Regions from separate parts of the Homo sapiens genome. Here all the other regions are linked to region 2. The links come from fine-mapping of genetic effects on gene expression. A gene starts in region 2. Each other region holds a variant in brackets. All regions are shown on one strand. Distances are from middle to middle. Region 1 overlaps ATP1A2 (ATPase Na+/K+ transporting subunit alpha 2). Region 2 holds the start of DUSP23 (dual specificity phosphatase 23). Region 3 has its middle 58 kb from the start of APCS.

Evidence for each region. PIP is the estimated chance that this variant, and not a neighbour inherited with it, causes the effect. A credible set is the group of variants that fine-mapping cannot tell apart.
Region 1: its variant is the best candidate, but not a certain one, in a credible set for the expression of DUSP23 in testis (GTEx, PIP 0.82).
Region 3: its variant is the best candidate, but not a certain one, in a credible set for the expression of DUSP23 in whole blood (TOPMed, PIP 0.84).

The regions. Positions count from the first base shown.
Region 1 is chr1:160,136,332-160,144,515 of GRCh38, reverse strand. ATP1A2 (ATPase Na+/K+ transporting subunit alpha 2) reads right to left here. Exons shown (of 23, transcript NM_000702.4): 18 at 8,146-8,184; 19 at 7,801-7,946; 20 at 7,485-7,615; 21 at 4,775-4,876; 22 at 4,532-4,623; 23 at 925-3,222. The coding sequence ends at 3,194. Among named protein-coding and RNA genes, the nearest start is that of ATP1A4, 11 kb to the left of the region's middle. The variant C/T (reference allele first, on the strand shown) is at 3,619.
Region 2 is chr1:159,776,391-159,784,574 of GRCh38, reverse strand. DUSP23 (dual specificity phosphatase 23) reads right to left here and starts at 3,613. Exons shown (of 2, transcript NM_001319658.2): 1 at 3,208-3,613; 2 at 2,032-2,422. The coding sequence starts at 3,474. The coding sequence ends at 2,237. It overlaps LOC101928264 (a long non-coding RNA gene), which reads left to right and starts at 5,194. Exons shown (of 3, transcript XR_922193.3): 1 at 5,194-5,349; 2 at 5,914-6,160; 3 at 7,820-8,118. RefSeq lists an enhancer at 2,721-3,297 and a silencer at 3,289-3,678.
Region 3 is chr1:159,642,196-159,650,379 of GRCh38, reverse strand. No RefSeq gene overlaps it. Among named protein-coding and RNA genes, the nearest start is that of APCS, 58 kb to the right of the region's middle. The variant T/C (reference allele first, on the strand shown) is at 3,541.

The sequences.
Region 1 (8,184 bases), 360 kb before region 2:
AGGCATGTGAATAACTAGGGAAAAGTGTTCCTGGCAGAGGGACCATCAAGAATAAAGGCCCTGTGGTGGGATGAACGGAGACTATACAAATAAAATTTTGGCATAGTTATGGCACAAAATGAGCTGTGATTAAGGCTCTTATAATCACTACTAACTATAACTGTCATTAATGACACTGTTAAGAGTCATAATAAAGGGGCTGCAATATGGCTTGGGCAAGAATTGACTTCTGACCGTTATTCTGAAATCCTGGCATAGGTTGTAAGAGTTGGTGTCTTTCTCTCTCCCATTCCCAGGGCCCCCCTGGAGCAATGCACACCCACCCACCCACCCCTCCATCTCCAGCACACAAGCGTCCCCCCTACTGCTCATTACATTCTGTCCATGATGGTTTCTGATGTCTACTACTCAGGTGAATTTCAAGGATTGCATCCACTTTACCCCCACCCCTTAAAGAGAGCACCCAGGACAAAGCTCTGCATGAAGTACAGATTGTGAATTGGTGTTGACTCTTGGGCTCCTCAACCCACTATCTCCTTCCCCCATCCCATCAGATAGAGAATGGCCTGATTTTGGTCTGGAACAGAAAAAGCAGAAGTGCCCCTGAGGATCTTGTTCTTAATAGACTCACAGGCCCCTCCCTGTCCTGGACAAACTCTTGTGGCTCTTAGGGTGGGATCAGCATGAGGAAGGAGGCTCCTGCTATAGTTTCTTGTAGGTTATTTTGCAACCTAACTTCTTCCCCTCTTGCTTTCTCCACGGACATCATCTGCTCCCAGACCATTTCCCTCCCATCCCTGACACTTGCTATCTCTTTGTTGCTTTCCCTACAAGCCGAGTTCTGCCACAGCACATATTTCAATATCACGATTTAGGAGGGAGGCAAGTATAAAGTGTAGAAATCTGAATTATGGAAGAGATTTCTTTTTTTTTCATAAAGAAATGCCACTTTATTATTTTCAAGTACATAGGTAGTACCTCAAACTAATGTCTTACAAAAGGTCACCAATAAAGATCCTGTAGATGTTTCTTTAACAAATACATAAAGATTGATGATAATTAGCCCATGCACTCGCTGCTTCTAAAAGGATATTTCTAAAGTGCCTGAAAAGTATTGTTTTTGGTAGACTAAACATGCCACCTCTAGCAATATTGTTTATGCTCTTAATTTACTAAAAAAATGCCATTTTTATTGATTGTGCAAAGATAAACTTTTGTCCACAGTTAGTAATCTCCAATTAATCGGATCCAAATTAATATTGTCTCCCACTTAGATTCCCAGGCCCAAGGCAATGACTCCCTTACTTCCTTGCTTCTGATAAAGCAAAATTCCAGTGCAATGAAATGACAGCCTTTGGGAGGTGGTTTATGGGTCTGACCCAATGCTTGTCTTTTGTGCTTCCTTCCTGTCTGCCTTAGGTCTTCCATTTTCCTCAGATGTCTTTCTCACTTGCATGACCTATCTAGGTCTCTCTCTACAGGACATTCCCAGTGCCTTCTAAGCCAGGCTTAGAGAATGGGCAAGGCTGCCTGCAGAGCAAAAGTGTTAGATAGGGAGTAAGGGAAAGAAAGCTATCTCCTGTAGGAACCTGAAACCAACTCTCCAGCCCAGGGTAAGTGGGCACAATGATCGTCGGTTTGAAGGGCATTTGCCTGGAGGGAACAGCCCTGCCACCTAAGACGTCAAAAGCAAATCATTTTTTTTTTTTTTGAGATGGAGTCTCACCCTTTCGCCCAGGCTGGAGTGTAATGGCACGATCTCAGCTCACTGCAACCTCTTCCTCACAGGTTCAAGCAATTCTCCTGCCTCAGCCTCCTGAGTAGCTGAGATTACAGGCGTGTGCCACCATGACTGGCTAATTTTTTGTACTTTTAGTAGAGACAGGGTTTCACCATGTTGGCCAGGCTCGCCTCGAACTCCTGACCTCATGATCCACCTGCCTCGGCCTCCCAAAGTGCTGGGATTACAGGCATGAGCCACCGCACCCAGAAAAAGCAAATCTCTTAGTATTTTTCCTCTTGTCCAAAGGTTCTGACCATGTTCATGACCTAAGCTTGTCCCTGGAAGCATACATGTCCCTGGGAGACAGGAAGGTTCAGGGAACTTCTCCACCCTGATTCTAGCCAATGGCCAGCGAACTCCTTTTCCAGGGTTGGCTTGGCAGTGTCGGGGAATGATGCAGGTTCATCGGGATGGGCATGAAAAGAAAGGGAATGGAAGAGGCTGGGAAAGAACTTGTGGCCATCCCTTTCAGAACAGCATGGAGCTCTGAGGACTTAGTATTACAGAAGGTGAAGTGTTATTAAGTACATGAGTGACATCCGGACCTTGTGGACTAAGAGGACCCCTAACCAAGGGTCAGCGGGGAACTCTGTGGCACACAAGTGTGGCATTTCTGGAAGCTCTTGATTGCCTTCTGGTCCTGCCTCTGCTGCTACCCTGATGAGATCTGAGTTTGTTCTGCTGGTGGGGTATTCTAAAATGTGGGACGTAGAGCTGGAGTCCACGACATCTATCTGGAGACTCATGTCAAATGTCCTGTCATTGGCACTACCTCACTTCCTTTGTTGTTTCCTTCCTCCAGCCAGCCCTACCTCCATCTCCCACCTGTCTGCCCAGCTCTCCCTGAAGGTCCCTTACCAGCCTCGACTGGGAGACAAGTCCACCTTTTCCAGTCTCAGGCTCTTGCACTCACCAGAAGAACCTTTTGTGATTGCAAGGTCTGAAGGGGAAGCCAGGGATAGAGTCCTGCAGGAAGCTAACGGGGGTGGAAGTGGGAAATGGAGTGAGGCTGGGGTGATCTGAGAGGGCTTCCTTCTGGTTTAGATGGGTTCCTGCTTTTGGATGCTGATCTATTACAGTAGGAAGTGGGGTTGAAGGGATGGGAGTGGGCAGGGTGGGGTAACCCTTAATTCCTCAGAAAAAATAGACAACATAGTGGAGTGGGATGGAAAAGGATCTGGTCGGGGGGACTCTAACACATAGTGTCTAATCTGATTGTTCACAGTTAGGTCTATGGGGTCATCACCCCAATTTATATACCCCGCAACTTAGCCTGCTGAGTTGCCTCATTATCTCTCCCCAAATGTTGCCACCCAATGCCACCCGTTATTTCCATCCCTCTCCATCACCATCCCCACAACACCTCCAGAGCTCCCCATCTTTCCATGCCTGGTTCTTCTTCCAATGGGGTCAGTAGTATGTCTCCTTCTCCACCCAGCCTGTTAGAGAGATTGGGAGTGGAGATTGCAGCATGAGCTTAAAAGGAGGCAAGAGATCAATTTCCTAGGGGCTTGGGTCGCTGAAGCCAGGTGGAAGGAGAAGCCTGGTGAAGGGCACTGGGGGAAGTGGCTTAGGAAGGTGGAAGGAGGCTGGGTGCAGTGGCTCATGCCTGTAATCCCAGCATACTGGGAGGCTGAGGCAGGCGGAGATCAAGACTCCTGGCTAACCCAGTGAAACCCTGTCTGTACTAAAAATACAAAAAATTAGTCGGGCATAGTGGCATGCGCCTGCAATCCCAGCTACTCTGGAGGCTGAGGCAAGAGAATTGCTTGAACCCAGGAGGCGGAGCTTGCAGTGAGCCGAGATCGTGCCACTGCACTGCACTCCTGGTTGGG[C/T]GACAGAGCGAGACTCCGTCTCAAAAAAAAAAAAAAAAAAAAAAAAAAAAAGAAGGTGAAAGGGAGGAGAAGGAGGTCCAGTGAGCTGGGGCCATAGGTTAAAGGAAGGGAGGGTGAACCTGCCTTTAGGGGAGACTTGTATTTAGCACATTGGAGGCTGGGGCAGAATAGGTCGAGGGTGAAAATGCAAACGCCCACAGGGCCTCTTCAGGTGACGAACGAGAGTCTAAGGGAGCAGCTGTCCATTCTTGCTGTGCAGAGATGTGGACATGGGATTAACAGCTCTTCTGATCTTCAGGAGAAGTCGAATTCAGATTTTATGTGAAAGACCCTAAATTTTCTATATCGGACCAATTAATCCACCCTCCTCCCCCCACACACACAAAATATGGCACAGGTCAAACCAAACAGTATTCCTGGACAGTATTTGGTTTGTAAGCCATCATATTTTAACCTCTACTAAGTGATTAAAAAACGCTTGTAGGAAAAACAATAACTTGTCGGTTGATGAGTGGGGATCAGGAGGCCTGGGTTCTAGTACCAGTCCTGCTATTCTTTGCTTTACGACCCTGAACAGATTCACCTCTGAGCCTCCTCTATCTGTAAAATATGGACGTGGGACTAGGTGACCTGGAAAGGCCCTTCTAATTCTGATGTTCTGTGGTTTCAGGTGGAAGGTGGAGGGCCTCGGAGACCAACTGTGAGTTAGGCGGGGTTTAGAATCTGATGGGAAGAGGGCAGAGACAACAGGTTCGAAAGAGTCAGGGCTCCTGGGACCTGGGACCCCAGGATCTGAGGGTGTTGAGGAACAGAAGCAGGAACCAGTAGTGGGAGTGGAGTCTGCGTGTGGTCCTGGAGGGAGGAGCTGGTGGTGGGGCTTGCACTTTGCTGGGGGGAATGTGGAGGGGCTTACCACCAGGATACCGCCGCAGGATGAGCTTTCGGACCTCATCATAGATGAAGATGAGGAGGCTGTAGGGGAAGGCGCAGAACCACCAGGTGACTCTGAAAGCAATGGAGGAGAGTGTCAGCAGCATCAGAGGTTGGCTTGGTGGCTGTCACATAAAGGAGCATTCAAAGCGATCAGAACTTGGATCCTGGAGGGGGCTGAAGGCCCCCCGTATGACTACTCAGGCCGCCCGAAAGAGACACTCACTTGAGCGGGTACATGCGGAGGGCTACACCCATGCCTGGGCAGTAAGAGAGAAAGGCAGCCAACGCCGTCTCCTCCAGGAGCCCAAAAATCAGGATCTTGTTCCTGAAAGGCAAAGAAAGGAGGTGGCAGGTGAAGGGGGATCATGGAGGCAGAGATCCTGGGATACCCCTGGGGTGCAAGGGAAAGAGGAGAGAGAATTCTAAACGACATAGTCGCATGTCTTCTTCCAACAGCCTCTTCTCATGCTTTATGTAACCAAAGGAAGATGTTATTTGTTTTTCTGCTTACTGAGTTTACGTCCGAATGTTGTCTATTGCACGTATATTCATTCATTAAATAATTGTTTCTAGGTGTTGGGTGACGTGTTCTGTACTGGAGACACGGTGGTCAACATGGGGCCTGTCTCATGATCTTGTTATTGCTCCAGGCACAGGGCCCATGAAAGTGTGTCTCCCCAGCAAGATGCTTGAAAGCTCCTTCAGTGCAGGGCCCATGTATGTCTTCTACCGTCTCAGCATCTCCCACAGTTCCTGGTGGTGGTTTCATTATAGATATTTAATTCAGAGAATGTAAAGGGGATCACTGCATAATAAGTGGTTAATATATGTTCACTTTATCAGAATTGAAAAGCAGGATAGAATAAGGAGGTTCTCAGGGCAGTTTCTGCAGTCAGACAGGTGGTGTCTATTCCCAGTTCTGCCATTGACTAGCTTTGGGTTGCAGGCAATGTTGAATTTCTCTGAGCCTCACGTTCCTTCTCTATCAAATGGAGATTTTACCTTTTTATCATAGGGTTGCTGGGAAAATTAAGGGAGATAACACGTGAAAAGCTCTGCAATGTTCTGTCACTGAAATGTTCAGTGACAGACCTGGAAAATGTTCAGTCACATTATTACTCCACTTTTTTTTTCTGAGACAGAGTCTCACTCTGTTGCCCAGGCTGGACGATCACAGCTCACTGTAACCTCCACCTCTTGGGCTCAAGTGACCCTCTTGCCTCAGCCTCTCCAGTAGCTGGAATTACAGGTGTGTGCCACCACGCCCTGCTAATTTTTATATTTTTTGTAGAGATAGAGTTTCACCATGTGCCCAGGCTAGTACCAAACTCTTGGGCTCAATTGATTCTCCTGTCTCAGCCTCCCAAAGTGCTGGGATTACAGGTGTGAACCACTGTCCCCGGCTACTCCATCTTTTGTATTCTTACACAAGGTACCTCTTTTTGGTTCAAGCCAGTGATTTCCAAATTTTCACTCACTAAGGACCTCCTTATTTTCTTCTGTAAAGGCCACATTTAATTGTTTGTCTCTCAAGCTACATTTGTGAATAAGTATTGAATACATTTCCCCATTTAAAATTAATTAGAACTATCCATGGCTTCCAGACAGAACTGTGAATCAGCATCCGATCACCACGTCATGATATGCGCTCTTGGCTTTTGCCTAAGAATGACACATTAGTAAGCCTGGTTGCCTTCGCATAGGTGAGTGCTTTATTTTCATAAAGCTTTTCAAAATAAGGCAAATAGCATCTCTGAGGATCCCCAGTGGCCCAGGGACCTAAGGTGAGGCCTGTGGTGGTATTAGTACTCTTCCTCTGTACCCAGCCTGATTTTCATTTGCCATTTTTCCCATTTGCCTCTAAGATGGGCTGGATGCAGCCACTATGGCCATGTTCCCACCTTCGTGTGTCATCCCTGCAGTGCATAGCAAGTCCCAGGCCCCAGAATTATACCCAATTTCTTAGACTCTCTGCTCCTTGTTCTCTTCAAATTGCATTTTTTTTCCATTAGTATTTTTAGCTTACTGGAATCTCCTTCCTTCATGTTACCTTTATTTATCTAACAGGCTTTTCACTTTATTCTCCCTTGGATCTTAAGTGTTATTAACTTCACTTTGGCATCTTCTCCCCACCCTCCCCAGCCCCAAACTAAGAAACTGTAACAACCTCATGTGAGGAATTGTGGCCATTGTTTATGGTAGGAGAAAATAAAAGGAACCAGCATGAAACCTTCAGCGCTCAACCACCACCCATAATAGAATCACAGTCATTACTGAGTTCCAAACAGTGCCAGATGGTGTGAGCACAGAAATGTTGGGTAGTAGCCAGGGCTGGGTTTTAGAGACAGATCTGGTGAACCCTTACCATCTTGGTGACCTTGGGCACATCATTTAACCTGTTTGGGGCCTCTTATCCATGAAATGTAAACAGTAATACCCACCTCATAGAGCTATCGTGGGGCTAAACAATGTGTTAGGCACTTAGCACAGTGCCTGGCACGCTGGAACTCACACTGCAAGAAGCGCTGAACCCGACCCTCGGCAGCACGTGGCCTCCAGAACCACAGTGCAAGTGCTATAAACTAGACTGCCTGCGGAAGGCCAGGGGAGGGGTGGGCACAGAAGACACTGGATTTAGGGCTGGGCAAAGGATAGGAGCAGGTGGCACTCAAGTAGGAGATGGGGGAAAGAAGGGAGGGAGAGAAGGAGAGAAGAAAGGTGGAGAGAGACAATAACAAAATGCAAAATTAGGAGCCTGAAGCATGGCTTCTCTCTTCTATATGAAACCTATCTATGGATATACAGATGGAAGATTAAAATCTGATGCCCTCCTTACAGCTCTGGTCCAGGGCTGAGTTGGAAGCTTGGCCTGTGTGGGTTGGTGAGTGTGCCCAGAGCCTGGGTGGGTAGGTGCCATGGGGGTGGGCACTCACTTCATGCCCTGCTGGAAGACTGAGTTGCGGCGGGTCTTGCAGATGATGAGGTCAGCCCACTGCACCACCACGATGCTGGCAAAGAATGCCGTGTGGCACGTGAACTCCACCACCTTCCGCTGCTCATAGGTCTGGAGGGAGGGTGGGCAGAGACAGATGAGAGTGTCGGAGGAAAGGGTAGGACCAGAAGGTAGCATGGTTTCTCCTGATCCACCCCTAGCCCCAGTCCCAGTTGGCCACCACTGGCCACTCCTGCCAGGCATTCAGCTTCCCGTACCTTCACACATGTGCGCTGTGTTTACACAGCACCACTCACCCACTCCTGTCCATAGCTGTCCTCCAGATCATTCATGGTCCGGTCATCCCAGTCGAGGCGGATTCCCAGTAGCCGTGATGGCAGGAAACCGTTCTCTGCCAGGATCACAAAGTAGGTGAAGAAGCCACCCAGTGCCTGGATCATCCCTGTGGGTAGAGGGCCAAAGGCAGGGGCAGGGTCAGAGCAGGAAGCAGAAGGGGCACAGCCCCTCAGGGCCAGAGATGGAGGTCCCTGACCCTTGGGTAGCTGGCCTCTGTCCTGGAATTTTGCTTGGGGCTCATTCCTCTGAAAGCTGGGAAAAGAACCCTGTTGGGGTTCCCTCCCGAGGCCCGGGGCTTGGCGCACCGATCTGTCCGTAGGCCATGCTGATGAGCCTCTCATTCA
Region 2 (8,184 bases):
TGAGAAGACAAAAACAACTGGGAGTGGAAACGAGCCCAAAGGAAGCCACAGGCTAACCCACCAGGTAGATGGAAGGATAAGGGCAGAGTTTTTCATTTCAAGCCAACTCTTATTATTTAAAAAGCAGTTTCCTTAAGCACTTAATTATACGTGTATTTCCCTAAGGAACTCTTGAGGCAGAGGAGACTTGCTTAAATTATGGGGATGGAGGCAGTACACAGGGCTTTAATGGGGTTAGCAAAATTTTGTTTCCCTTGCAGGAGCCTTGGGAGGAAGGGAAGGGCATATTCCTCTTCCACAGTGCAGAGATGTGGGGAGGATGGAGTGACACAGGAACAGAGGCAGAAAGGGCAAGGATTGGTTGTATGGCCTAGCAGGTGAGGATCAGAGTGGAGACACGAACTTGGGGAAGCTTCATGCCTCACACCTCTCTCTCTCTCTCTCCATCCTGGTAAGCCCTCCGACTGGAGGGGAGAGGTTCAGGAAGTGGCCCATTCACACCCTTCATGCCCTACTCCCTTCACATGAAAATACACACACACCCCTTTGGAAGATGTTCTGGTTTGCATCAGAAACAGAATGGGGCCATACTATTGGGGGAGGGGTGGATGGGGGAGAGCAGGGTAGACAGAACTTTTGGTGACAGGAGGGTAAGGGTTTCAGTGCATCCTCTATTTGCATTCTCATTCCTCTGTTGCAGCTGGAATGCCTGGAATGTGTGGGTTTCTTCTCTTTGGGAGACATCCTCACTTGAGTAGGCTAGGTGGAGACTAAGCTTGAAGGAACTGATCACTCAGATTTGACAAATAAAGTTAAACTGGGGAGAGGGCATCTTATGGCCTTAGATTGGCAAGACTTCAGCTGATATCTCTTGTTTAAGGTTGAGTTGGACAGGGATGAACTGGGTGGTTAGTGGTGGAAGGGGGAAAGCAGCAGAAAGGAGGACCAGTTGGCTAGGCCTGTCTCTGGTCTATGATACAAAAGATGAGATCTACAGGGGAACCCTTGACTCCCCACTCTTCTATGTCTCCACTGGAACTGGAATGCATGTCTACAATAGCATCCATTGTCTGTGGTGGACTCTATCTGTGCCCATCTTCTCCAGCAGGCTGAGCTCCTGAGAGCAGGAATTATGTCTCATTCCACTGTGCGGCCTCCAGATCTAACAGAACTCATACAGGTACGTACAGGAACTCACATATTTTATGGTGAATTTCTATCTTATTCAGCCTGCTATTGCAGAAAAGACCACAGGCAGACCTACAGTAAAGAGTCCATTGGGCGGATATATGCCATTCTTCCCATTTCTCATAAGTCAAAAGTGTAGTGGTGCTGGCAAAACAGGGCCCAACAAGGGGGCAGAATGGGGTCCAATAGGGGATAACTGGAGATAACATCTGAGAAACATGGCCAAGATTTAGAGCCCTGGAACTCTTCATTTAATTGTTAAATATCTGCTCTGCATAACTGCCTAGATTGGCTCTGTTCTCAGGTCCTTTGGCCTGAGGTTGTGGGGCAGCAGAATGAGCCAGAGAGCCCAGATGAGCTGAGCAGCACCTGAGGTTGGTAAGAGGTGACCAGCCCTGTGGAGGTGGAGATGGTGGTTATCTGTGAGTGTGACATCCAGGCTGTCTCTACCCCCAGATAAACAAGGGTGACACGTGTGCAGCAGGTGGGCCTACACGGAGGGGCCTCCTGGCCTGTGAGCATCAGAGACCTGGGAATGCCAGGAGGCCAGGCTATTCTGGACCTGAATCCTTTTCATTGACTAGCTCCCCCAGAAAACACATCAAATATTGTCAGGGAACAGATACATAGCATTTCAGCATCTTCAAGGGATTGAAGACGTGTGTTGCTGTTCTGGCCCATCCTTCCACTTTCTAGAAGTGTTGAAGATGGGCCTCTCTGAGCTTTGCCCACCTCATCCAAAGAACAGAGATGGCCCATCTGTCTTTCCTGTATCACAGGGCTACAGTGAGGCTGAAGTAAGTTAATGTGTGGGAATGCTTTATAAAGTACCATGCAACGTGCCCTGGTTCGTAAAACTCATTTATTCAACAAAGCAGTACAAGCCTCCCCTTCAATCAGGACCTGCCTGCAGGGGTGGGCTACTTCAGTGTCTTCAGCCAATGGGAGCTAGAGGGTTTAATACTTTAGTCCACTTCCCTTCATCTCTGGCCCCATCGACAACATGGGGAAGGGGAGTGAGGGCCTGGTAGAAGGGTACTAAGGCCCCTTATTTCGTTCGCTGGTAGAACTGGAAGACTGCTTTCTCCTGCTCATAGGTCTCGATGGAGCCGGGTCGTAGTCGTCGGATTTCAGCAATGGCATCTCCTGCAGCCAAGCCCCGCTCCTTCACCAGGTAACAGGCCAGCATGGTGCCAGTGCGGCCAAAGCCCAGAGCACAGTGCACTCCCACAGCCTACGAAGAGGGGGCTCGATGGGTGCCACTCAACTCCCCCACCCACAACTGTTTCCTGCCCCTCACTTGGTTCTCCCCACAGCTCCTTCTTCTGTGCCAGGTCCAGGGCTCTGCAGCAAAGTCAGGGAGGGCTGTCCCTGCACTAGGTGGCTAGGAGGCCTCTGCACTGGCTGGTTCAAGAGCTGTCCACCTCTACACAGCCCTCCACCTGTGGTGTTCAATACAGAAGACAGTAGCCACGGCTACTGTGGCTACTGTACTCGAAATGTGGCTAGTCCAAACTGAGATGTAGTGTGAAAAACGCAACAGGGTATGAAGAGGTAGTAGAAAAAAGAATGAAAATATCTCATTAAGATCACCAAAGTTAATTTTATCTGCTTCCCTGCTTTTTAAGAATGCCGTTGCTAGAAAAATTAACATTACATGGAGCCACTTAGGTTCCATTATATTTGGACAGCTTTACTCTAGAAAATGGTAAACAGCCTCCACCTGACTTCAACCCCCACCTCTCCCAGGTGTCTGTCCACACCCTTCTCCTTCACAACTCACAGTATTAGCTGGTTTTCACTGCCTCTCCTCAAGCCCAGTTCGCACTGCTTCGCCCTCTCTTTAGTTCCTTCCGTTTAGCGCTTCCCTCCCCCGCACTGGCTTCCCAGTCTCCCGGCCCTACTGTCTGCCTCCCCGAGCCCAGTTAAGTTATCCCAGGCCCGGTCTCCCCAGCTCCGCCCGTGTCCCCCGCTGACCTTCCAGGCCCCTCCCTCCCTGCGCTGACCCCGCCCGCTGACCTCTCCCCGTGCGTTGGCCTCGTCCACGATCTGCACGAAGCGGTCGATCTGGTCGGGGGCCGGCGGGCAGAAGTCGGGGATGCGCAGGCGGTGCAGGGTGAGGCCGGGGCAGCTGTCGCTGTGAGGGGGCCCGCGCTCCGTCAGGGACACCAGGTGCCGCACGCCCAGGTCCAACAGGAACTGGTAGTGGGCGGGGAGCCGCGGCAGCGCCAGTCCCGCCAGCCGGCCCGGAAGCACCCAGGAGAAGTTGGGGGGCTGCACGCCCATCGCTGGGAAAGGGCACAGGACAGCGGGTCATGGGGGCCGAGGCTGGCCAGCCCCGCTCCGCCCACGCGTCCCCTCGCCCGCTCCGAGCCAAGTAACTCACCACCTACCTGGCCTCGGCGCCTCCCGGGCCACGTGGTCTGCAGGGCGCCGCCCTCGGGTCGCTCTGCCCAGCCGCGGGGATTGGCCCAGAACCTGGGGCGGGGCTGGAACGCGGAACCCAGTCTCTGAGCGACCGAGGGAAGCGCCGCGATCCCGCCCCGTCCGAGCAGATCACGCGGTGATTGGCTGGATCATCATAATGGGCGGGGGGTTACTTCCACGGGGTTCAACCCACTCAGCTAAGAAGGAAGACCTGGAGCGAGTTAGGAATTGTTTGCTGCGGATGGAACAACCCGGGGTCGGGCTCTGCTGCACCCTGGCGGCATGTTGCAGTCATTGCGTCACTGGCGCCTGCCCCTGCCTCCTCGCGGGCCGGCCTAGTTCTACCTCCTTCACGCTGGATGCCCTGGGGTTTAAGAGATGACAAATCGGCTTTCTCCCAGGACGAGGAGTCTCCTCTCTAATGATTGACTGGTCGTTATCAGCGACTTTTTGAACTGTTCCAGTAAGAGGGAATTACTGCTGCAAGGAGGCTATTCTCATTTTTTCATTGCTGGAACTATTAAAAACTTACCCAGGGTAATAATTATAGTAATAATAATAACCAGCACCAACTTCTCCTGTCAATCCAGTTGCTCCTCAGGACTTATTGAGCATTTATTATGTGCTAGATAGTCTTCTAAGCACTTAGCACATACTGACTCATTTAATTGCCACAGTAATCTTATAAGATAGGTGATCTAGTGAATCCCATTTTATGGATGAAAAAACAGAGGCACTGGAGAGGTTAATAAACTTGACCAAAGGATGATGACTAATGCCTCCAAAATCTTTAATAATATCGCCATTTCCTAAAGTTAAATGGAACATTGTTTTCTCTTCACATAACCCCCTCATGTCCCCAAATATTATCTGGGTTAAACGCTTGTGGGTTTTCTTAATTTTTATTAGTATTTCATATTTCTTCATTTTTCAAGGTTTCCTAGTTCTCTGGGTCACTGTCCCCTGGGCAGGCTAGAGTTGATTAGTGTTGTTCTTACTAGGTGGGGGCCCCTAGATCTGAACACCGTTTCCACTGTCATCTGACCAGTCCATATCCTCATTTGAATAATGTGCTTCTAGCGATGCAGACTAACTGTAATTATGAAAATAGTTAACCCTTATTGAATTTGTTTATGTACCAGGCCCTGTGCCAAGCGCTTTCTGGAAGAACCACATGTGAAAGGTATTTTTGTATCTTTTTTTGTACATGAATCATTGGAAGCTTAAAGAAGTTGGTTAACTTGGCCAAGGACACAGTGATCCAAGCCCAGGGCACTTGGCCATGAGGATGTATTATATTTCCTTCCCTTTGCACCCACCTATGACACACGTCTGACCATTTAAGCCTTTGGCTTCAGCAAGATGGAAAGCAATTTGTCTTCTCCTAAAGATCAAAGCCTGCTCTGACCCTGTGGGAAATACACTTACCATTTACCCAGACAATTACTTTCCCCAGGTTCCAGGAGGTGCCAAATCTCCCCTTTTTCTCCTTCCAGACAATCACAGCCCTCATTAAGCCCTTCCTGTTTGCACTCTCATTTCCTACATAAATTCCTATCAAGGTTACCAGCCCTCCCCAGTTTATTCCTTTCTCTCTTTCCCAGCCATGGCCTCTCAGCCACCAGTCACCTCTTCCCCCAACCCCCTGACCTCCCACTTCTCTTCTCAATTCAACTGCTCTTCAGGATTTCTGGTTGCACTACCTCTGGAGACAAGACTCTAGCATTTGTTCTTGTAAGTTAATCTTTTCTTAGTCCCTTTGCCTTGTTCTCCTTTCTTTGCTTCCCCTACTCACCAGGGAAGTTTCCACTTCACTCCCTACCCTCCTATGTGCTCCTTCTTTGCCTCCTTGATATCCAGCTCGAAGCCCATATTCTCCAGAAAGAGAAAATTTTTTTGGGAGACCGAGATCTTCCTCTTCCCTGAGTCCCCTACCAATGATTCTCTCCCTCTTGTGGGTTTCTGCAGGGCTAGCAGTGCATCCATCAAACCATTAGGGCCTCCATGTGGAGAGGCCAGTTGGCTCCCTTTTTAGGAAGCTCTGCCCTTCCCTTCCAGCAGACCCAGAGTGGAAAGGGCCCAGGGTCCCTGCCTTAAGCTTTGTCAAGGGTGCCATATGTCAAGGGTGCCATATGATGTTTTGTCTTGGGCCCAAGGGGCCTCAAACTGTAAGGAAAAACCCTCTCTGATGGTTTCCTGGCTCAGACTTCTGCAATTAACAGGACTTCTGCAACTAACCACCTTCTTGTCTGCCCACATACATGATACTGACCTTCTTTTATTCTCTCCTCTGTACAGAGTTACCTGACCCTCAGGAAGATTTAGGCTTTTTTTTTTTCTCCCATCTCACCTTGTATAAATATGTCTTCTCAGTATAGTAATGTCATTGGATTGAGGATACTTGTTTGCAGAGGAGGCAAGAATGCGTTGTTCCGTTTTTGAATTCCACACATCTAATATGGAGCCTGAGCCACAGGGCTCAAAATGTTAAGTAAACAAATGAATGGGAAATTAATAAGAAGAATGCATTGGCAAGACCGTGAAGGTACATTTCTAGGAGTGAATGTGAGTCTGTCGGACCATGTGGCAATGTGTATTTGTAATTCTTTTTAAATGCACAAGTTTGAGGACTGTGTTGAGTATTGGGTAGTATCTCTTTGAAGTGTATTTTTTACTTGACTGTGCTTTTAAATAAAGAATGGCTGTGTCAGTATGATCTTGGCTATGTCTAATTACTATTTTTGTGAAATGGGACAAATAAAGCTTGTTCTTTATAGAGCACTGCTCTTGTAGTGTGCATGTGTGTGATGGCTTGTGTATTTGAGTGCTTTGGAGGGGCCGTGTTCCTGGAGAACAATCTATTGACACTGATGGTGGGCTGAGTAGTAAGCTTAAGAAATTTCCCTGACTTCAAGGAATTTACAACATCCTTGCGGGGGATTTAGACTCTGATGTAATTATTCTCAGGACATATAATAAAGTACTAAATTGCTCATCAAAGACAATCAGATAATACATATTAAAAAGCTAATTGTGCAGTAAAAACAAGTGCAAAAGAAGTCAGTGGGGGAAAGATAAGCTTGAATTGGAACTACCAGAAATGTCTTATGAAGAGAGGGATTTTTCTTTCCATTTTGTCTACTGTCCAATGAAAAGCTCAGCAGACCCAGCAATCCCATTACTGGGTATATACCCAAAGGAATACAAGTCATTCTTTTATAAAGATACATGCACCATATGCTTATTGCAGCACATTCGCAATAGCAAAGACATGGAATCAACCTAAATGTCCATCAGTGATAAAGAAAATGTGGTACATATACACCATGGAATATGATACAGCCATAAAAAGCAATGAGATCATTCCCTTGCAGGGACATGGATGGAACTGGAAGCCATTATTCTCAGCAAACTAACACAGGAACAGAAAACCAAACACTGCATATTCTTACTTACAAGTGGGAGCTGAATGATGAGAACACATGGACACATGGGGATGGGGAACAACAAATGCTGGGGCCTGTCTGGGGTGGGGACTTGGGGAGGGAGAACATCAGGAAGAATAGCTAATGGATGCTGGGCTTAAAACCTAGGTGATGGGATGATCTGTGCAGCAAACCACCATGGCACACTTTTACGTATGTAACAAACCTGCACATTCTTCACATGTACCCCTGAACTTAAAAGTAAAAAATAAGGCTTAACAGAACATTTTTTAGGGCATCTCAGCTTCCCTTTTTCCAGCTGATAAGAATGTTTTGACTTAGTTCTTGTTCATATTGAGGCCCCAGTCCCCTGTTTGGCTTGATGCTAGTGGCAATTAGGGGTGCAATTGGAGTCAGAGAATTTCTTCCTCCAGGTAGGTCCCTGTGTTCCACCAATGCAAAGGATTGCTTGGGTTCAGGTTCCTGTGGCCCTTGGACTACAGTCAGAATTCTCAGTGTCCTCAGTGTTCTGATTTTTTAATGTCTAAACACACTTCACACCTAAGATCTGATAATCTGGAAACTGAACCTAAGAAGAAATGGTATGGCAGCTAGCTTCCAAGATGGTACCCAATGAGCCATTTCATGCCTGTGTAGTGCTTTTCCACATTGATAGGGCTGATTTTTGCAACCAGTAAGATATTGTGTAACTGGTGGTGTGTGACTTCCTAGGCTGCATCATGAAATACTTAATTTTTGCCTTGTTCTGTCTTGGAAAGAAGGCCTGCCATGGGAAGCTTTGGGAAGAAGCCAGCTGCCATGTTGTGAGAACTCTCAAGCAGCTGTGTGGAGAGATCCATGTGGTGAGGAACTGAAGCCTCCTACCCACCATCAAGTCAGTGGCTCACTACTGTTGCAGTGAATTCTCCAGCCCATGAAGACTTTAGATGATTTACCCAACATCTTGATTATAGCCTCATGGATTCCCTGAGCCAGAACAACCCAGCTAAGCCTCTCCTGAATTCCTTACCTACAGAAACTGTGAGATAATAAATATTTATTCTTTTAAGCCATCAAATTTTGGGTAATTTATTATGCAGTAATATGTAACTAATATAGATAAAAATATTCAGTTTGAAGGAAA
Region 3 (8,184 bases), 130 kb after region 2:
ATTGCTAACTGTTATTATTATTCATATGTATTAGGGACTTTGTTACTTTTGGGGTGGTAGTGAACTGAAAGTCCACAGAGCTACATTTTGAGATGGTGAGTGATTCAACAACAACAACAACTGACACCCTAGTTGCATGGCTATAGTGTTGTAAACTGTGACAACTAATATAAAGAATAAATAATGGTTTTTGCAGACTGTAAGTGATATGAGAAAGTAAAACAGAGGAGCTCAATTTCGGTTGACGTTATGTGGAATGGGAAAGATATCTCTGAGGAAATCGCATCTAAGTTGAGTCCTGTAGGATTTTGTAGCTTTAGCATGGAAAAGTGTAGTGGGGAAGGAGCATGGGATGCATTCCAGGCAGATGACCTCTAACTATGAGGAGGCTGTTACAGGTTGAATTGTATCCCCAGCAATTTCATATGCTGAAGTTCTAAGTCCCAGTACTTCAGAATGTGACTATTTGGAGATAGAGCCTTTAAAGAGGCAATGGAGGTAAAATGAGGTCATGTGATTGGGCTCTAATCCAATATGACTGGTATTCTCATTAGAAGAGATTAGGACACAGACACATATAGAGAAAAAATTAGGTGAAGACACAGGGAAAAGATGGCCACTGACAAGCCAAGGAGAGAGGCCTTAGAAGAAAATCCTGTCCACACCTTGATCTCAGACATCCAGCCTCCAGAACTGAAAGGAAATACACTTCTGATGTGAAGCCACCCAATCTGTAGTACTGAGTGCATCCCCAGCAAACTAATGCAGAGGTCAAATTCATTATCTAGCTTCCTTTTCATTATTCTAATGGCTTCTTGGCAATTCTTTCAATTTTCTCCTCTCTATTCTTGATCTGCTGCCTGAAGTAACCATTTTGTTTTCATGGTCATAGCAATTTTGCTGGCTAATGGACCTTCCATCTGAACTTTAAGGTTATTTATTTCCTTTTAAGGTTTGTTTTCTCCTACAAACTCTATCATGCCCAGGTTACTGCTCCCATAATTAACATTGTGCTATCAGGCTCCAGCCAGCCTGTGCTCACAAGTGCTCTTTGGGCCTACCATTTTCCTGTATATTTCTTCTACCAGCTTCTCTCACAGGCCTGGATTTTGCTATCAACAGAGACCTTGCAGAGTTCGCTAGCTGGAATGGACACTGTGGGATTCTGAGCAGCCCTTTACAACCCTCACTTTCCATTCCAGCTTTTTTAGCTTGTCATCCTTGGTATTTGAGATGCCTTTAATTTTATCCAACATCTGTGTTATGTCTACCGTTTTTTTTTGCTATTATAGTCAAGAATATTGTTAATCATATCTCTTTGTATATATGTATGCATATTTTTCATAACAAGTACCCAGAAGTGAAATTGCTAGATTAAAGGCTATATGACTTAACATTCTACTAGATGTTGCTTAATTGTTTAATAAAGGCTGTAAAAAATTGACATTCCCACCAAATGGGCATATAAGTGCTTTTTCTCCCATTTCCAGTATTTCCCACCTGATATTTTCGAACTTTAAAGGGTTTGCCAATATGATGCATAAAAAAGTACATCATTTTGCACCTCCCTAATTTCCAAGGCTGAGTATCTTTCCTCGATATGAGTAGTCTTTTCAAATGCTTTGCTCATTTTCCTACCATATTATTAATCTATTTTTCAGTGATTTCTAGGAATTCTATATATATTAAACTAATTAATTTTTGTCTATTTTATTTGATGTGTGCCAGATATTTTTCCAAGTTTGTCAATTAATTTTTAACCCTATGGCATTTTAAAAATTTTATAATTTTTTATTTTTTTGCTGTGTAGAAATTTCAATTTCTTAGAGAGTAGAATTTTTATGTATTTTTTTATGTAAGCAAACCTTACTCACTCAAAGATTATAAATATAGTCTTTAAAATTTTAATATTTTTACCATTTACAAAATCTCTTTTAAAGCTTAAATAATTTTCAACTCAATTTTATGTATATTGTGAAAGATGATCAACTTTTTTTCTCTTATACGGGTAGAAAATTGCATATTGAATTTCTTTTACTTATTTAAAATTTTACCTCTAAAATATTTTAAATTCACATATAAATGAATTTGCTTCTGAAACTGCTCTTCCTTTTGTCTTTGGCGTATTATCATATAAATAGCACATATTTAAATTACTATGGTTTTATAGTACATTTTGATGTTTGGCAAGGCAATTCTCCAATCAGTATTTTCCCTCTTTCATGTTTTGTTGGTTATTCTTGTGAGCTTGGTCTTCCAGGTGAGTTTTGGAATGCACTTTTTATATTTCATAAAAAATTATGTTGAAAATTTGATTAGAATTTTATTACCTTTGTACTGGTTATTATATTTGTATTATAATAAAATCTGTCAGTCTTACTAACTTAAGACCATCTAAAACACAAACGACCTTAACAACAAAGGAATTAAGTGAAAAGATATTGGAGTATTTCAGAGAACTTAAAGAACTGCTGTGAGGAAAGGTGGTGACATGATGATTCTTGCATCCTTAGTAACTGAGTCTGTGGATCTGCTCACTAGGTCTTTGCCATGAATATGACTCAGAGCCTTCAACTGCCAGTCTCTGTGCCAGTCTCTGTGCTCTCCAGTAAAAATTCCAGATTCATAGGAGAGAGAATTTGATTGTTTCATCATGGGTGCTATGTCTGCCCCTATATCATCAGGTGTGATCAGGCAACACAGTTGATAGGAGAGGTGTCACCACTGGGCCCCATTTTTGGCGACAACCCAAAGTTATACATATTTACTGCATCTCAGGGCAACGTCCTCTGCCACTGTTTCCCCGATTCTACCTCTTTGAATGATCATTTCTCTAGTTTTTTGTGATTCATCTAAAATATTCTGCCACCTATGGATAAAGTTATCCCCCCAAAAATCACATTGTATATGCAATGATCAGTGGAAAGAGGAGGAAAAAGAAGAAAAAATATAATCCCTCTTTAGATAGATAAAGAAAAGGGGATGATAATTATATCCAAATAGTAAGCAAGGAAAAATAAAAGGAAACCACAATCTTCATTTATTTTATTGGTCACAAGACTTTCTTGAATTTTGACTTTTTTCTAACTTCGGTAATTCTATGTTCTCTTTGTCTTATGACATCATTGGATTGTGATTTTTCTCTCTTGGTGGGTTGATCCTCAATCCTGAGGGTCTGAGCAACTAGTGTTACTACCTGTTAAGAATTTGGATTGTCTTCTCTTAATATTTAAATTTGTGCATAATAGAACAAAGAATTTTCCTGGCAGCTTGGTGTTGTGGCAGCATTAAGGCATATATGACTTGATCCTAATATGCTCTAATATGTTTTTGGTGGTAGGAGTTTAATATATCCAAGCTTGGCTCACCAATTTAAACAGGAGTGTTTGCAAAAAGAAAGGGGAACATGGTCAGAGCCTCTTCTTTGATCTCCAAGACTCCCTAGATGTTTAGTTCCCTTTTCAGAATAGCAACCCTATTTCCTGTGGAGAGTTAGTCAATCACACAAGCCAAGATTCTGCAACTTCCTTCTAGTGGCCC[T/C]GTGGTTGTCTCTGTACCAAATATGGAAAATCTTTGTTGTGTTTTCCAGTGTAAGTTTTCTTCCCTTAGGTGTTACAATTTCTATAACACTTAATTATTTACCCTTATTTTTCCTTTATCCTTATTGCCTTATTTGCTTATTTGTGAACTAATGTTCCCCGAATTTTTTTCAAGCTGCCTCAAACCCTTTTTAGAATTAGTCAAGGTAAGCATAAACAGGTAAAAGTGTCACTCCCACCTCCATGCCTTGGTTGTTGGCTGTGAGACTGGTCAGAGTTTAATGGCATGCTGTAAGGCAGCAGCCTAGCCTGTGTCTCAGAGCTGGCATCATGAGATGCCACTTTTGTGGTAGAGTATACCAGCCTTCCCTATCTGGTGGCTCACAAATTCCCAGGGTTCATAGATGTATTCAAGGAAGTTTGTGTGGATAAAGATAGTAACGAAATTTGGCTAAGTATCTAATAAACTAACATTTTCTAGTTTGCCTTTTGGAAATGGGACAGTTTGTCATTCTTGAGCAGATATAGAATGAACATTATCTGTGGCTGATGGCAATCAGATGAATGTACTCAGAAACTCTTGTTTAATAGTTTTGACCATTAAACAGTTTTAAATTATTTTATTCATAGTTGCATGCTATTTAATTTATACTCATAATGAACTGTTGATAAATACAAGAAACATAATGAAGCTTGATGTTGAAGTATAAGTTAATGACAATAATTCAGCAAATTCATCTCAAGATGATCTTACCAAATCTTTAAGTGGCATTCAGCTAATCAAAACTCTTATGTGGCACATTAAGCGTTCTCTGTATTAAGATAGAAAATTTGTCGTGATTGTATCTAACAATGTGTTACAAAGACCTACATTTGGGTTCTAAATCAAGCATAATATCAATTTTAAGAATTTATTTATAATATAGTCAGATACACACATGTAACTTAAAGCAAATTAAGTAGCATGTCACTTGTTAAATGTAAAAATGTCTTTTTATATTATAAATTATTAAAGATAGTGTGAAAATGAATCTTTGCATATTTAATAATATAGTGATCAAATTTTAAAACTTATTTATCGTATTTTATATACAAATTAAAAAACTTTAAAAATTTCTACAGCAGCCACAAATACACACAGGCACATACACACACACACACACACACACACACACACACACACACATCTCATTGCAAAAGCCTTTTATAAGTCCATAATAATTAGAAAATAATTTGGCCATTTCCCTCCATGGGCATCAGATTATTCCTCTCTTTCATTGTGAAATGTGTTCCTCTGTCAGAGGCACTATTATGTAGGATGCCACAATGATGCATAAGAAATTTAGTATAACCACCAAAGGTGGTGCTGACAGATATTTGATGAGCAGGGAAACAAATCTAAACCCGTAATATGTCTATTCTTGAGGACGAACTGCTACCCTATTCATGATAGAGAATAATGCCATTTTCTCTTTCTCCATGTCAGGAGTTTAGCATTAAGTAACCAAGTCAGATTTGGTGAGTGGAAGTCCATGCTAGTAAGTCCATGTATATCCTCCATCACGGCCTTTAATTTATTAGTTCATTTAGCAGTGAATGTGCTGGCCAGAAAAAGAGTTGGGATCAACAACAAAATAGTTCTCCTGATGCTCTGATTATTAAGCATCTCATCTTCAGTGAGGAATTTGTATGAGATGCTATGTTCAGATATTTTCAGGCTCTAGGCTCTTTATGAATGGGCCACTCTGAAATGACAGGTAAATGGGCTGCATGAATGCTTTTGCTTTATTTATTTTTTTGAGATGGAGTCTCGCTCTGTTACCCAGATTGGACTGCAGTGGCGTCATCTCGGCTCACTGCAACCTCTGCCTCCTGGGTTCAAGTGATTATCCTGCCTCAGCTTCCTGAGTAGCTGGGATTATAGGTGCACATGACCATGCCCGGCTAATTTTTTTGTATTTCTTTAGTAGAGATGGGGTTTCACTACGTTGGCCAGGCTGGTCTCGAACTCCTGACCTTGTGATCCGCCTGCCTTGGCCTCCCAAAGTGGTGATATTACAGGCGTGAGCTATGGTGCCCAGCCCCCTTCTTTGTTTTTGTGCAACTTACTATGTAGGCCTTACTAAAACATGGAAAGTACTTGCTACTTCTTAATGAAACCATTCCTATAAACTTTATAAAATTAATCAGGGAAGAAGGCAAGGGGGCTAGTGAAAATAAACCAAGCTTGCAGCCCATTCATCAATAATCATTATGTGAGCTTGCTCTCTGACATGCTTCCTTATAGCTATTTGGTGCCTATTGTCCTAGAATCATGTAGACCTGTTACAAGATTATAGTTACTCTTAATTGCTCTATAACTAACAACTTGAATATTATGAATTGTTGTTTTTCCTTTGAGGTGTTCTTTCAGGTCCTGCTTATTAATGAAGCTACTGACATCATTTGGTCTGAAGGACCCCCTGGGGAGCTAACTCACCAAAGAATACAATTTCCACATACTGATTATTTCATGCCCCTTACCTCTACCAATCTATGACCCCAATTTTCCAGCCTCTTGCCTTCCATGATCCCCTTAAAAGGCACAGCCAAGAACTCCTCAGGGAGATGAATTTGAAGTCTCATCTCATCTCCTTGCTTGGCCACCCTGAACTTAAACTCTTTCTCTGCTGTAAATCCTGCTGTCTCAGTGTATTGGTATGTTACTGTGAAGCAGGCATATGAACCTATTGGCCCTGTAACATTGTTTCCAGGACCTATCTGCATGACACTGTCAGTGTAGTGGACTGGTGTGAGGTCTTGAGGGATGATTAAATGGTCAAGGCCCCTGTAGATTAAATTGTTGCCAAATGGTGTTACAAAATGTAATATTGGAGAATTGATGTGAGGACATCCTTGTGTACTGGGATATGTATAAGCCTGTGTATAGCAGATCTATTTAGAGCATCCCCCAAGCCAAGAATAACTCAAGTATCAAACAGTATACATGATAAATATATTGTGAAATACATGTATAAATTACAGCTATACACTACCAAAAAATATATGAATTTCAAAGACATAATGTTGAGCCAAATAAGCCAGGCACAGAATAACATATATAATATAATTTCATTCATAAAAGGCTAAACACACGCAAAACTACTAAAGTAGAAGTTTAACGTAAAATACATAATGTAGAACTTAAATTAGTTCCAAAATGAAAGTTGAAAGGGAAAATAAAAATTCAAATTGGCTAGGACTGGCAAATACCCTTAGAGCCAAAGTAACTTCCATATTAATTTATCTCCTTGGGTTTCTAGTTTACCTTCAGTTTTGGCCTTGTATTTGTTTTAGAATCCTCCCCTCCCCTCGCCTCCCCTCCCCCCGCTCCCCTCCCCTCCCCCTCCCTCCCCCCTCCCCTCCCCCTTCCCCTCCCCCTCCCCTCCCCCTCTCTCTTTTCTTTCTCTTTTTTTGTTGTTGTTGTTGAGACGAGTTGTTCTGTCGCCCAGGCTGGAGCACAGTGGCGTGATTTTGGCTTACTGCAAGCTCCGCCTCCTGGGTTCATGCCATTCTCCTGCCTCAGCTCCTGAGTAGCTGGGACTACAGGCATCCACCACCATGCCTGGCTAATTTTTTTGTATTTTTAGTAGAGACAGGGTTTCATCATGCTAGCCAGGATGGTCTCGATCTCCTGACCTTTTGATCTTCCCTGCTTCGGCCTCCCAAAGTTCTGGGATTACAGGCGTGAGCCACTGCGCCCAGCTTGCCTGCCTGCCTGCCTTCCTTCCTTCCTTCCTTCCTTTCTTCCTTCCTTCCTTCCTTCCCTCTCTCCCTCCCTTACTTCTTTCTACTTCCCTTTCCTTTCCTTTCCTTTCTCTCTCTTTCTTTCTCTTTCTTTCTTTCTTTCTTTCAAGATTTAAAAATGTTTTACCTAGCTCTTAAGCTATTTTCCAAATAAATGTGTCTGCCATTACTAGAAACAGGAAGTATATTATAATTTCTTGAATATTTTTTGTTTTGCCAAAAAGCAATCTAGAATAAGTTTTTAATAGAAATAGTACCTGAACAGTAAATGTTCTAAATCTTTGTATGTTCAAAAGTCTTGGTTTCATCTTTACAGCTGATTGATACTTTGGTTGGAGGTAGTCTTCTAGGTTTGAAATTACTTTTCCTCATCACCTAAAGGCCTGGTAGGATTTTCTTGCTTGAATTGCTATTGATGTGCCTTTCCCCAAGTTGCCTTCTCCAAATGGAGGTCTTACTATGGCTGAGGGATAAGATTCATCATGGTGTTATGTAGGCAGGGAGAGGAAGACAGCTGAGGACCCACTACTGACAAAGTAAGCAAATATTTATACTGGTGGTAAAAAACATCAATGTGTTCTACTTCTGGGTCTGGCTGGTTGTTCTGTAAGGAATATCTTGCCTATTGTGGAAATCTGAAGCTATTCCAGGTGTTCTCTGCTTTTCTCTTCACCCAAAGACTTGAAATAAGAGCCTTCTTTATGTAGACTTTTGCTTGTTTGGAGAGCAGATCTGGGGATTTTGTCCTTGTGATTAATGCCAAAGTGCTAAACAGCTGTGCATTATTTGGGGACAAGAGGAATAATTACTGCTGAACTGTTCTATAGGAAGCCTTTTAGTTAATTCATCTGGAGGCTTC